Linked DNA regions of Homo sapiens. The protein of the gene in region 1 purifies or fractionates together with the protein of each later gene. This does not show direct contact. Each region holds a gene or a part of one and is shown in the gene's direction. Other genes may lie near its edges.

The links.
Region 2: the proteins of STK3 (region 1) and MAP1B purify together in Homo sapiens (affinity purification with mass spectrometry; 4 studies listed by BioGRID and IntAct, with this or other methods). This does not show direct contact.

Annotation. Positions count from the first base shown.
Region 1 is NC_000008.11:98,815,547-98,823,257, reverse strand, and holds part of STK3 (serine/threonine-protein kinase 3), read left to right. Parts: intron 1-7,711. UniProt on the Homo sapiens protein: Stress-activated, pro-apoptotic kinase which, following caspase-cleavage, enters the nucleus and induces chromatin condensation followed by internucleosomal DNA fragmentation.
Region 2 is NC_000005.10:72,110,253-72,117,963, forward strand, and holds part of MAP1B (microtubule-associated protein 1B), read left to right. Parts: exon of another isoform or gene 1-3,235; intron 3,236-5,445; coding exon 5,446-5,547; intron 5,548-7,711. UniProt on the Homo sapiens protein: Facilitates tyrosination of alpha-tubulin in neuronal microtubules. Phosphorylated MAP1B is required for proper microtubule dynamics and plays a role in the cytoskeletal changes that accompany neuronal differentiation and neurite extension.

The DNA of each region.
Region 1 (7,711 bases):
CTAGAAGCTGCTGCTCAGTTGGCATTTTTTATTTTTTCAGGTAGGTCTTACTCTTTCATTATCCCATCTAGTTTGTCACTATAGCCTATCAAATTTTCTATTAAAAAGTTGGTGGATTAATTTTTTCTGTTTTCTTTCTCAAGAGTACTACCCCATAAAACCCATTCCATGGTTTTATGACCCTCACTTTTGAATTGCAGCAGTACCTTCTAGCTGGACGCTTTAGTCCAGTGGTTTTCAAAACTATTTTGTTTTGTTTTGAGATGGAGGGGTACAATCTCGGCTCACTGCAACCTCTGGCATCCTGATTCAAGCGATTCTCGTCCCTCAGCCTCCTGAGAGGCTGGGATTACAGGCGGGCGCCACCACGCCCAGCTCATTTTTGTGTTTTAGTAGAGACAACGTTTCGCCATGTTGGCCAGGCTGGTCTCCAACTCCAGACCTCAGATGATCCACCTGCCTCGGCCACCTAAAGTGCTGGGATTACAGGCATGAACCACCGTGCCTGGCCCCCGTTGTTCTTTATTTATGTTATAGGCTGTGGGTACTCCCAGCTTTACCTTTATTCACATTTTTCCTTTAGAAAAGTTTGTGTTACTTTTTGCCTGAAGAATAATCTATGTTTTATTCTTCCATCAAAGCCTACCTCATCAAGTATGTTTTCTGAGTACTTTCTAGCCTGAGATATTTCACTGAATTCCTAATGTGATATACATTTGATTATATACCATCTTTTTATTCTATTTTATTACAAAATTTTAGATATCCAGAAGATAATGAGGGCCTACTGCGATGGTGCACGCCTTGTAATCTCAGCACTTTGTGGGGCTGAGGTGGGAGGATTGCTTGAGCCCAGCAGTGGGAGGTTTCAGTGAGCTATGATTGTGCCACTGCACTCTATCCTGGATGACAAAGTGAGACCCTGTCTCAAAGAAACAAAAATAAAAATAAAAACAAAACAAAAAGAAAAAAGAACAGAGCCTAATTTAATAGATACTTAGGTATTACCATCCAGTTTAAGAAATATTAATAAAAATATTACCAATACATTTGAAGCCACCATGTGTATTTCTTCTCAATTACACTCCCTTCCCATCCCCCAAAAGGTAATCACTGACATGAATTGGATATTTGTCCTTCCCATACATGCCTTTATATTTTTAGTATGTTACATATATATGTGTGTGTGTATGTGTGTGTGTGTATGTATGTGTGTGTATATATATATGTATGTATGTACACATATCAACACATAATGTTAGGCATGGGTATTAGGCCTGGCCTTGTCACTGACTTTGAAATTTGCTTCTTTGGGCATCTTCTTCTCCTCTGGGAGTTGGAGATTCCAGTGTGTAGCCCAGTTCAAGAATCATGACTCAGAGACCTAGATGATTTTTAAGGCACCTCTCACCCTCATATTCATTGATTTGGTCTCCTTAACAAGGTTTGTGTTAAACATAGGCAATAGATGTGGTCACCCATGTCACCAACTTGAGGTACCAGAGTAGTTTTTAGATTCCTTAGATTTCGTTAACATACTTGTCACTGAGGTCTTCAGAAGTCCTTTTTTTTCTTTTTAACTTTTTTTTTTTTTTTGAGATTGGGTCTTACTCTATCGCCCTGGCTGGAGTGCAGTGGCACAATCATGGCTCACTGCAGCCTTGACCTCCCTGTGCTCAGGTGATCCTCTCACCTCAGCCTCCCTGATTAGCTGGGACCACAAGCACGCACCACCATACCTAATTTTTTTTTTTTTTAATTTGTAGAGATGAGGTCTTGCCATGTTGCCCAAGCTGGCCAAAGTCGTTATTAAAAGGATTTCCCTCTGGGAAGGGAAATTCATTAAATCATAGATCCCCAACCATTTTGGCACCAGGGACCAGTCTCGTGGGAAACAATTTTTGCACAGATGGTTTGGTTGGGGGCGAAATGGTTTCAGGATGAAACTTCCACCTCAGATCATCAGGCAATAGTTAGATTATCATAAGGAGCGTGCAACCTAGATTCCTTGCATGCACAGCACAATAGGGTTCGCACTCCTATGAGAATCTAATGCTACTGATGATCTGACAGGAGCTGGAGCCCAGAGCAAGGGCGGTAATGCTCGCGTATAGCTCACCTCCTGCTGTGTTGCCTGGTTCCTAACAGGCCATGGACCAGTACTGGTCCACTGTATTGTGCTGTAAAGGAGTTGGGGACTCCTTTATTAAATGATCATTAATTAGCATTTTGGTTAGATGGAATTTGTTGGATTTATTTTATTATTTTATTATTTTTTTTGAGGTGGAATCTTGCTCTGTTGCCCAGGCTGGAGTGCAGTGGCACAATCTCGGCTCACTGCGAGCTCCGCCTCCCAGGTTCACGCCATTATCCTGCCTCACCCTCCTGAGTAGCTGGGACTGCAGGCGCCTGCCACCACACCAGGTTAACTTTTTTGTATTTTTAGTAGAGATGGGGTTTTACCGTGTTAGCCAGGATGGTCTCGATCTCATGACCTCGTGATCCACCCGCCTTGGCCTCCCAAAGTGCTGGGATTACAGGCTTGAGTTACCGCGCAGCCGAATTTATTGGATTTTTTATAGGGGAACTGCTAGCTGAGAGAAAAATGACCACATAATAGTCCAGCTTTGATAGGTAGAAAGGTAAATGACCAGAAAACATGGGCTCTTCACCAGGTGGAACCTTCATAGAAGGGAGGTGGGTCTCTATGATAGACAGGTGGGCAGCATGAAAATATATTTAATACTTGTCAAAGAGAGGACAGAATATCACTGCTGGAGTGAGACACTTTACCAGATAGGCTTGTTCCTCAAATAGGTTATAGTGTTAGTAGTTATTTAAAATGTGTAATTCGTTGATTAAGGTATGGTTGGAGGGCAGGTTAGCATTGAACAATGAAAACACTAAAAGGATAGTAAAAGAATAAGCTATTGAAGCATACTTACTCTCAAGACAGGTGAGTTCTTTAATTTAAGCTATAGTTGGATTCTGTGGCAATTTTTTATTATTATTTTTAATAGTGTGAAAGGGTAGTTTGGGGGAAATAAAATTGAAGGTTGAAGTCATATGTTAGGGGTCCTTCACGCAAATGGAAAGCTAGAAAACACTAATTTCATAAGGGCAAATGAGTGTTTGGATGGATTACCCATCAGAAAACAGATTATTATGGAAAGAAAAAGCAAAGGGATCGGGTTGAGAATATAGAGGAGTTAAGCAGAAAGTACTCATGAATTCTTCAGCATGAAGAGCCCACATCAACTTGTAGCATCTGTAGCCCGGATCTCAGGCCAGGAATTAGGAATGGAGAGAGATAGCAGATAACTCTCAGCGCTTATGAATGGAAGTGGGTGAGAGAAAGCAACACACCAGTTAAGTAGATAGTAGGAATATCACAAAGATATTATTGCAGGGAGAAGAGGGGTGGATGTCATTTTATGTGTATATTTCTAATTTATGTTTCCTTGGAATGTTGGAAAGTAAAATTGTGTGTATATCAGAGAGATTGACTAAATAGAGAGCTGGAGTTGTCTTTGAGAAGATGAACTCTAAGAACTCTTAAAAAAACCCCAGCAGACTCAGAGGAAGGCCCTAGGGAAAATTTCCAATTCTAGAGGTAGGCAAGTGGACAAAATATTCAAAGTAGTTAGTCCAAGGGGAAAAGAACCAACCAAACAGGAGCATCTCTGAATTAACAACTTGGTCCCTAAAGCATCTGCTGTCTTCCCTTTGGCTTTTCTTGGTTAATTTAGGGTGGCATTAACTTGATTAGGATTGCTTTAGGCCGTGCTGATGGGAATAGTCAGTTGGCTCTTCCTTCTTGGAGAGAGGGAGTGCGACAATAAAATTTGCAATACTTCCGGTAAACAAACTTCTGTTGCATGTCAACTAGAGAAACTCAGTCTTTAGTTGACTCTAGGAACACTTCAGGCCATCATATATTACTGGCTTTCAACATTTAAAAAAAAAAATTCATTGATACTGAGACTCAGTACAGACCCACACATTTACATAAATGGGAGGTAGAGGTGGGACAATTGCTTGAGCTCAGGAGATTGAGGCTGCAATGAGCCATGATTGTGTGGATGCATTCCATCCTGGGCAACAGAGCAAGACCCTGTCTCAAAAACGTTCATTGGGCTGGGCACGGTGGCTCACGCCTGTAATCCCAGCACTTTGGGAGGCTGAGGTGGGCAGATCATGAGGTCAGGAGATCGAGACCATCCTGGCTAACATGGTGAAACCCTGTCTCTACTAAACAAAATACAAAAAATTAGCCGGGCATGGTGGCGGGCATCTGTAGTCCCAGCTACTTGGGAGGCTGAGGCAGGAGAATCGTGTGAACTTGGGAGGCGGAGCTTGCAGTGAGCCGAGATTGCGCCACCGAACTCCAGCCTGGGCGACAGAGACTCCGTCTCAAAAAAACAACAAAAAAAATTCATTGTTTGCATACATACCGTGAATATCGACATGAAGATTACCTTGAATTTCTGAAAGTACATCATAGGAGTATATCTTGAAAAATGACTCATAGCAAAATGAGAATTACAAAGTGTTAACATTAATGATAATTAGTTTAGGTAGTATTATTTTGAGTTCTGAATTAGTTTATAGATTTATATAATACCAGACATCTTAGTATAGAGGTGAATTGAGTAAATTTTTCAGATGTTTCTGCTATCTTGATACACACACACACACACACACACACACACACACACATTTATAATTTATAATTGGCAGCTAATTTTCTTGACTCTGTTTATGGAACCAAGCCACATAGTCTCCTGTTCTCTGTTGTGTTGCTCTGTTCTTTCTGAAAACTGGCTTTCTTTACTTACTGATCACTACTCATGGCAAAATTGGCATTCGGCCTTTACTTCATTCATTTCCTCATTTATTCATACATTCAGTAATTATTAATTGTTTTCCACATTCCAGATGCTCATTGGTGAATGAAACAGGTGGGTTCTTTGCCCTCATATAACATACACTCTTGTTGTAGCTTGAGCTATGAAAGATATAAGTAGTGTGTAGAGAAAGATGGTGAAACCTGCTTAATAGGGCAGTTGGCAGAGGCTTCTCTGAGAAGGTGATATTTAAGTTGTAACCTGACATTGAGAAGTTATCCATGTGAGTAGCAAGGGAAAAGTATTCCAGGCAGGGGGGAAAGCTATGAGAAGGCCTGGAGGTGGGAAAGAGCTTAATGTGTGGGAGGAATTGAAATGACACCAGTGTGCCTGGATTGGAGAAGAGGACAGTGGCTAGAGATGAGCTCAGAGAGATGGGCACGGATTCAATGATGCCGGCCATGGAAAGGAATTTGGATTTAAGTCAGAGCTCTGTGTGCTGTCATTAAAGGTTTTTAAGCAGTTTATGTTTTTAAAACATCCTTTTGGCTGCTTTGGGTAGAGTAGATTGTAGAGGGTTAAGAATAAAAGAGAAACAAGTTAGGAAACTATTTGAATAGTTTGTGATTTGAGATGGTAGAGTCAGTGGAGATAGAAGTTGAGAGATTTGCGATATTTTGGAGTTATAAATGAAGGACTTGCTGATAGACTAGATGTGGGGAATGAGGGGAAAAAAAGAATCAATCCTGGCTCCTATGTTTTGAATTGAAACAACTTGGGGAATGAGGAAAGACCGGGAGAACAGGTTTGGATATCTATAGTCTCTTTCTTGGAATTTCATAATCCCAAGAAAGTGAATCTGATTGGCCTAAAATGTGATATTAAGTGGTTCCTTTAGAAGAGGAAGTGGGTAGGGAGGAAATGATGCACACTGATTTCTATTTTTTTTTTTTTTTTGAGATGGAGTCTTGCTCTGTCGCCCAGGCTGGAATGCAATGGTGCAATCTTGGCTCACTGCAACCTCCGCCTTATAGGTTCAAGCAATTCTCCTGCCTCAGCCTCCCAAGCCGCTGGGACTACGGGCGTGTGCCACCACACCCAGCTAATTTTTGTATTTTTAGTAGAGATGGGGTTTCACCATATTGGCCTGTCTGGTCTCGAACTACTGACCTCAGGTGATCCACCCACCTCGGCTTCCCAAAGTGCTGGGATTAAAGGCATGAGCCGCCATGCCCGGCCTGATTTCTATTTTTATCCTATTGTTTTCACTCAGTTAGAGTAGAGAATGGAAAACATATCTAGCCGTTTTTAGGTGTTGACATGTTCAGGTGTGCTGGTAACCTGCTATTTTAAAAAAAATCTTTTTATTGCAAAATAAAACATTAGTACAGAACACATGTATGGCTTGGTGAATTATTATAAGGCAGATACCTTTGTAATCACCCCTCAGGTTGAGAAATAGATCACAGTGGCCTTTCCCTATAAGTAATCATTTTCCTGACTTGTGTAGTAATAACCCAAATGTGCATTGCTAGATACTGTAGGTTAGTCTTGATGATTAAGAAATAGTAAGTTTTGGCCAGACACGGTGGCTCACACCTGTAATCCCAGCACTGTGGGAGGCCGAGGTGGGTAGATCACCTGAGGTCAGGAGATCAAGACCAGCCTGACCAACATGGCAAAACCCCATCTCTACTAAAAATACAAAAATTAGCTAGGCATGGTGGCAGGCACCTGTAATCCCAGCTACTCGGGAGGCTGAGGCAGGAGAATCCCTTGAACCCAGGAGGTGGAGGTTGCAGTGAGCTGAGATTGCACCATTGCACTCTAGCCTGGGCAACAAGAGGGAAACACTGTCTCTAGGTTGTGTTTTGTTTGTTTGTTTGTTTGTTTGTTTTTTGAGACAGGATCTTGCCCTGTCACTGAGGCTGGAGTGCAGTAGTGCAATCTCAGCTCACTACAGCCTGACCCTCCTGGGCTCAAGGGATCCTCCTGCCTCAGCCTTCTGAGGAGCTGGGACTATAGGCATTGGCCACCATGCCCAGGTAATTTGTGTATTTGTAGACATGGGGTCTTGCCATGTTGCTTAGGCTGGTCTTGAACTCCTGGGCTCAAGTGGTCTTGCCTTGGCCTCCCCAAGTGTTGGGATTATAGGCATGAGCTACAGCACCCAGCCCAAAAAGCAGTTTTGATATGAGTTGTCACTTTTAATCTTTAGTTTAGTCCTCCATCCTTTTCCTTTTCCTGTTGGAGAACCCAGGTTGTTTGTACTAGTTTCCCAGAGTTGGATTTTGCTGATTGCTTAATATAGGTCAGTTCAACATGTTCCTTTGTCTTCTGTATTTTCTGCAAACGTGCAGCTGGATCCAGAGATGGAGCAGACTCAAGTTCGATCCCTTAGGCATTGTGATATATATATATATATAGATGGGGTTTGGCAAGACCATGGGAATATCATAATGTCTAATTGTCTTTCTTTTTTGTGATGTTAGCGGCTGTGGATGGTTAGTGGGTGTTGCAATATAATGAAATTCTAAATACATCATTTTGCTTTCATTTATTAATTGGAATGTTTTTATAAAAAGTAACTTCCCCTCATCTTCTGTTTAGTTACCCAGTGGTACTGTTGATAAAGGAAAGACAGGATAAATGTTTGATTCTTTCCTTTTATTTACAAGTTTTCAAGATAACGAATTAGTTCCCTGTCTTTCTCCAAAGGTGGCCATTTTTTTTTCTTTTAAATGCCATTATGAGAAGATGGATTTAAACATACTTGATGGATTTAATCCATTGGAATCACTTTCACTGAAGCGCAAATTGTCTCACCTTTGGTTAGTGGGAGTCTCTTCAGGAGATAACATGAC
Region 2 (7,711 bases), on another chromosome or scaffold:
TTTTTAATTCCCTAATTTGGTCAGGTTTTTGCATGGAACTCCGAAATGACTGTATTGATCCCATTAAGAATCAACCAAGTGAGTGAGCAGAGCCGTTTCTTTACACACCGTAGCAGATGCTGCTTTTCCTCTGAAGATGGCTCTCCTGGGTTCTGGGGTCTTGGCTGCAGCTCAAGATGCAGGCCCTTCCAGCGCTAAGTGAAAATCCTGCTCCCATAGCTTTTCAGACAGTCTGAGATGACTTAGCAACAGAGCAGGCTGGTCCTGTTTTCCTGTGCACGACAAGCTGCTGCTTCAGCCGCCAGGTCTCAGCTGGGCCTCCTCCAGAGGCCACTGCTGTTGTTGCTTGGTGCCTTTGGGCCTTGTTGTGTGAAGCAAGATGGAGCTGCTCCAGGGGGGCCAGCTCTGATGATTGTGTGTTGCAGGCTGGGAAGGCAGTTCCGCATCTGTTACTCTTTCTTCCTATTTCCCCTCCTGCCTTAACTGAGATTCTGGGTTTGGAGACCCTGGCGACTTGGATTCTTGCCATCCGATTACTGAGGGCTCTCTGGGAAGCCTAGAAAATAATCTATAAATCTGTAGAGACATGGTGGTAATGCAGTAAATCAACAGGCCTGGAACGTCCCAATGTGGATGCTTCGTAAATGCCTCTTGAAACCAGGGAAGAGAGATGGTCCCTCTTGCTTTCTCAACTATATTCGGAAAGCATAATGAAAGCTTTGGACATGTCTCCTCCAGAGTTTGGAACAATAGTGTTTCCTCGGACTAGGCTAGCTTCATTTATTTAGTTATGCAGGACTTTATTCCAAATCGTTTTCGCTACCACCAACTACTACTCTTTGGCACCTCCTTTTTCTCCTCCCTAATTAGCCCCCAGCATGGATTTAGCTAGTGGTTCTCATTTTCAGCAAAACCCTGCTTCTTGGTTTTATTTTAATACATAGAGGACATACATCCGTGTCTTGCAAACTGAATTCTAGAGCCTTGTGAACGTTTTCATTGTTTCATTTTTTTTTTAAGGAACTAAAACATATAAAGAATATTAAGTGTCTGTTGGATGTTTTCAATTACCGTTAGATTATAACTTTTCCTTTAGTTAACACTGGGAATCAGCAAGATTTGTTGGTGAAAAGATAGATGAATGTAACATCTACTGCTCTGCATTTTTAGATAAAAGTTTAGCTGATTACATTGTTACATTCTGATGTCACTTAACTGAATGTCCTTCAGTCTAAGATGGTAAGAGAATTTAAAACCCAGGAAAGATTTGGGGTTTAGTTTTCCTTTTCTTTTAACAGGGGAAATAAGAAACCAATACCATATGTGGTGAGAATTAAATGTTAGAGAGTCTTAAATTTACTATATTTGCCTATACTTTTCAAAGTCGAAGACAGATGGATTTCTGCTTGCACTGCTTAATTGGTATTATCTACGACAGCTCTGTGATCCATGCTGAAACACAAGGCAGTCCCCAAATTTAAGGTCATTAAATTGTTCACCTTCTCTAAGGGCTTACTTTAAAAAAATAAGTTATAACTTTTTAGACAAGCAAATAATTATGTCACTTCTCATTTGCTTGTGTTGTAAGATGTTATCTCAGACCTAAATTATTTATTATCAATGCTTTGAAACTATGAGCTCTGTATGTAAGATATTATCGTCATTACATACATATGTTATGAACATCAAGTTGCTGGCTTTAAAAAAAGAAAAAAAGCAAATTAAAGATGAGTTCAAGGGAAAAAATAAGAATTTTTTCCTCTGAGAAATAAAGCATTCCTAAATGTAGCATTTCCTTTAGTTCATTTATTTAGTTTATGATTTCAATCTGATTTCAGACCACTTTTTAGCATAGTTTTACAAATATAATCTTATGATTCTAGGTTAATGATTTAGGTACTTGGAAAAAATATCCAAAAGCCTGTTTTTCAGAGGGAGCAACTAAAGCCCATAAAGGAAAATCAACTTGCCAAAGGCCCAAATAACTGTCAGATAGAACCCATGTGCCATCAACATACAATGCATGGTCATTTCATTTTGCTTTCTTCAATCCACTGTCACCTTTAGAAATATGAATTTTAGCTTTTAAATGGGAGGTGCTTTTTTAAATTGTTGGTTTCATTAAACAACCCTGCAAAATGCTTACATGATTGGAAAACTTGGAACAATCTAGCCTGTACACACCAAGAGTACCTGACTTCTCCTCATTTTTCACCCTGACTTGTTCTTTAATGACCCCTCCCTGCCTCCCTGCCCCATAACCTATTCTTTTCTCCTTTTCTCATCTGTGTATATCATGTGCATGTCAGCCTCCCTTGTGTGCACTGCTACCACCTGGGGTCAGAGAACTGAGAAGGAAAGATCTTTTGTTGCTCCCTGGTCCCAAGGAGCTCACTTTCAGGGCTGGGCAATAGCCACAGAGCAGGCCCAGATTGTTCTCAGAGATGACGGATGCCTTTTGGCTCCAGACATTGAAAGAATGGGGTTCACTGCCTCCAACTGCCTGGAGTTATTCTGCCCCCACCTGGGTAAGCCCAGAAGGGGTACAGTCTTAGAATGCTGGGGAAACAAAGCCTCCAGGAAGAGCTTGACTTGGTGTATATTGGGGTGAAAATTAGAAAGAGGGCTTCCCTGCTCCCCAACAGAGACCAGGATGACTTGCTTCTGAAAGCCTCTTTAGAACCTCTTCACCAACACCCCAGGATGCCCTCCAGCCAGATTCAGAGAGGGGAGAATATGGGAAGGGCCAAAGAGATATTTTTCTGTCCTGTAAACTTTAGAGGGCTCACTGTTGGCTCCTTGTTAGGCACAAAGGGGAACTACATAAACCTACTAAATGCAATATGAACCTTCATTAACAACTACTCTTTGCCTTTACCAATATTATCCAGCAGGAGATACAAAGTAATTACAAATTATTTTATTTCTAAAATTGGTATGGAAAGTGGCCTGATTCCAAAATTTTCCTTTCCAACTAAAATAGCTGGCAAATCCAACATAACCTTTATTTTATAAGTGGTAGTAGTGGTTGTGCATTGCTAAGAAACAATTTGGGTGGAAATTGCTCTCTTGAAAAAAGAACCCTACATTTTTAGTTTCATTGGGAGTGTAAAAATGAGAAATATTTTTATCAGCCGTTTACTAGTATAATTTAGAAATTACTAAGTGGATTTATCATTTAGTACTTTTTCTATTGCTAAATTACAAATATGTCAAAAATAAAATATGTATGAAAATATAAAGCAAACATTTAATTGTGTGTGCCATGACAAGTTAACTGAAGCCAAGGGAAAATGGCAAGTAACAATGTAAGAGCAAGTCTGCAGATAACCCTGGATGAAGTCATTCAAATAATGTACCAATTTAGACATTACTTAGAACAAAGACAGAAAAATTGTATGAATTTAATTTAAATGCATATGTCTCATTATTAACTTATTGACCCAGCTTGACAGGGTAGAAGACAAAGTAGAGCTCAGACCTGGAACAAGGAGAATTCAGTCAACAATACCAATTAAGCAGCTCAGACAGGAACTCGATTTTTTTGCACTAGACTAGTATATAGTGTATACATTGAAGTAAAATATTCTAATGAATTCAGACCTCTCAACCTGTCAAGCTCTCTGTGAAACAAAAAGAACCCATTTATCATTTCTGCACTAAAAAGATCTGCGAAATCTCAACATGCCTTTCTTGTTAAAATTCAAATACTCCATTAGCACAAATGCAAACTGAGGCTATTAATGTTTCCAGGAAGAGCCATAAAATTCTCCCTTATAATTTGACCTTTCCTTAAGCACGTTAACTCTTCCACATCTGAATTCTTCCCATTGATCATATGAGAAATTTCTGCCTGTATTTAGTGGACACACATCTATTTGAAAATATTCCTCCTGGTTGAAAAGGTCTGTGGTGTGTAATCTAAAGATATTTTAGATGTGCAGTGAACTGAGTTTCCAGAATCTTTTTTTTTTGTAATGTCTATGTATAATCCACCTTGATTCTTTACAGGATAGGAAGACTGAATACAATATAACCAAGGGTAAATACAAATATGCCTTAAGGATCCAGTGTGTATTTAAGTAACACACTGCTATTTATTCCTTCAAGTCTGTATACATGACTAATGTCCAACAAAAATGATTACATGACTGGGTGTTAATTTAGAGATAGTTCACCTGCTGTGTTATACCTAGAGGTTCAAGCCCTTACCTTTAGGAGGTATGCAATAAATGTCTGTTGTTCTAGAGATTTGTTCCTGGCAATTGAGAATGCTGTATACAAAGGTACAATGATGGATACCACACACTGGCTCCACCATGAGCAACCTATTAGGAAAAATGTAATATATAATATGTAAACATGTAAAACACACACACACACCAGAGTTCTGGGGTTCCCCAACTTTCCCTGGCTTACTCTCCAGACCTCCCTTCTATGATGCTCTCTGGGGTTCCCTCTGGGCCATCCCCTTTGGGAGGGCAGGAGAAAGAGGACAGTGGGAGGAGGAAGGAAGAGGCTAGAGAGTAGGGCATGAGCACAGGAAGCTGCCCTCATCCCGCCTCTTGCCCTCCTGTTCCTCTCACCCTGGATATTCCTTTCAGCCTAGGGAAAGGAAGTCTGATAGGACTTCCTTTCCGTTCAGCCTAGGGTAGGAATAGCTGATTCATGTCCCCAACTCCATAAATGTTTTATAAAGTATAAAAAGTTGCCATTTTTCTTTGCCTCTGGATAAGAAAATTGAATACAATGAACAATTGTGAATAAAAGAGCTGCCTGCCAAGCTACTCAGGTAACAGAAAAGTGCCTGGAAGGACAGACAGGCCAAGTCTTGAAGATTGAGTGGATCCACTCTGTTTATCAAAGATCACATAAATCTTGGATTGATATCCAGGGCTCGATAAACCAAAGTCAAAAACGGGATTGGTAAAGGAAAGAAATTACACATGTATACTACCAGAACATCATTTTAGAAACAAAGGCCCGTGCTTGAATGGCAGCCCCCGTGTATTTTCTTTGCCTTTATTCTACATTTTCTTGCCACCTACAAGTGGAGTTAGTCTGTCTACAAGCTAGAGTTAGTCTGTTGGCCTCTTAGCTTCTTAAGAACTAACATCTTCCTGCCCTTTCTAGTCCCTCCCTGGAGTACAGCCTGTCATTTTCCTAACAACTGTTTTCTTTGACTCTTCCAGAAGAGGTGCATTTACTTTTTATGAGGGGCAGAAGCTCAGTCCACACTGCTAATTATCCCTCCCTTGTGGCCTGGTGGAGAGACCTCCCTGGCCCTCCCATTTTGTGGGCATCCACTGCTAAGCCACCAAGCTCTTCAGAAAAGGAGTTCCCACATCCTCCCTGAAAGCCTGAGAAATATTACAGTGATGTTGTCCAAACCACTCTGAAATGACTAACTGGAAGTCTCTCAACTGTCTTTCTTTCCCTCCCTAGGAATCCGATCATGGGACACAAACCTGATTGAATGCAACTTGGACCAAGAACTCAAACTTTTTGTATCTCGACACTCTGCAAGATTCTCTCCTGAAGTCCCAGGTGAGGCTTCCGCTCAGTGTTGGTCAGCCTAGAATTCCAAAGGACAAGGAGCAAGCTAGAAAGCTTTGTCTGAGGCAGCAAAAAGACTCTCTTATTGCTAAAAGGATACTTTGTATTTGTTATTATCAACTAGGTTAGCCAGCAGCCACAGTTTAGGAAGTCACTCTAGGTTATCACTGTGTGGGTTATCTATTTTGTGGATTCTTAATGAGTTTTTAAGTTCTAGGGTTGTGTATGTGTATATATATACACACACACACATCAATGATCACACAAATTTTGAATTGATATCCAGGGCTTGAGAAAGAGAGAGAGAGAAAGAGAGAGAGATAGTATAGTGTGTGTATGTGTATCTCACTGTACTCTGAGCTCAAGGGACTACAAACTATTTAAATGTTAATCTTACTCAAATGAAATTCTGAATACAAATTGGATGCTCCTAGGATCCCAGAACTGTCTTCCTGCAAAAGAAAAAGGAAACATATACTGCATTTCAAAATGAAATATACATCATCATTTCATAATTGCATTATCACCCGCCATTGCATTACCACTTATCTTTCTTCGTGTGGGTAAAAGAATCTGATATTACAAACTTCTGTTAAAATAGCCTTTTTTTCAGAGATGAAAAAGAATATCAAAGAATAATTAAAGGTAAGGATGCAAAAATTTGTCATATGTGAAGATGTTCCCACTAACCAGCCACCTTCCTGGGGCTATGATCTGACCCATGCCTCTGGCGCTGGAGATGTATTCATACTGACCCATCTCGTCTTCTTCTTGTGAGCAATAACCTATATTCCTCCCATTTGGTCACATTTAGGAATTATGAGACAGTTTCTGGCCCATAAAGACTCCAAACCTGGAATATATTTCTCCAGACCTTTGCCATTGACCCATCAGAAACACTGTATTACATCTTATTTCTTGACCATCACTTGAATTTTACATAAGAGAAAGCTATTTTCTGCCCATATGCTTTTGTTATATGATTCCTAATTTTATTGGCATTGATATAACATCAGGAATGAGATTCAGCCTATTTTGACTGGTTAGGTCATATTCCATTAGTCGTGTATATACATTGATATTTGAAATCACTTTTATAGAATATCAGTGCCTTCGTGAATCACATTTGGCTGCAGTAATATGCCCATAGGACTGTCTCAGTTCTTCCTTTTGAGTTTAATATTAGAATAAAATCCCATACATTTCAGTTATTGAAATGCATTGTAGCTTTCAAGTATGGAATTGAGTAAATGTGCTAAGAAAAGCTTAGCAAGAAATGGTTTATTAAAAGTTAACTTCCTGCAAAGCCACATGAAAAATCAGTTTTTAAGTAACTTTGCTTTGAGAAAAAAGGAATCCAGAGACTGTCAGACAGCATATGATTTGCTGAAGGAAAGGTACAGTATAAGGTTGTTTCTCTTGTTGTTATTTTATTGTATTTTTGTCTTGCGATATCTCCGTATCTTTTAAAACCATCTCACAAAAAAAATGAGGGAAGTGCTGTTTTCCAAAAAGTATGATTATTTCAAAATGTAAAAACTACAAGCTTTTATTTTTTCTCTGTAGGTTGTTCTGGCTTTTTTACTATGATTGTTTGTAAGACTTCTTTTTTTGTGTGTACAAGTCATGTGGTTCTCATTGTGTTCATTCATATTTGGACTGACTTTATAGAGTGACAACTGCATATTGCATAATGAAAGGCTGCAAGCATTGCTGAAGAATTAACCATTTCTAGACCCAAGACCTAGTATTGCTCCTGTGGAGTAGGAAGATCAAGTTCCCCCAAACTGTCACTTTAGCCTAATGTACCCCATTCTCCTCTCCTTTCTCCTGCTATCACCTTCAGTAAGGATTAGTTACCTACCTAGTTGTATAGTGTTATGCTAGAGGCTGTGTTTGGAGATTGGCCTTTGGACACACAGCATCTTTACTATTCTTGCCAATGCTAGAAAGGACTGATATTACGACTTTCCCTGTCAAGCCTATGAGTACGCTTTACAGGCCAAGGCTCCCCTCTGGGAATTAAGCATCTAGAATAGAGCCATTATAGTCATGCTCCTGTGTGGGGAGCATGAAGGTTTCCAACCAGGACTGTAAGGTGATAAAAGCACATGTCAGATTCAGTTTCAGATAAGTGTGTTTTAAAGAGAAGAGA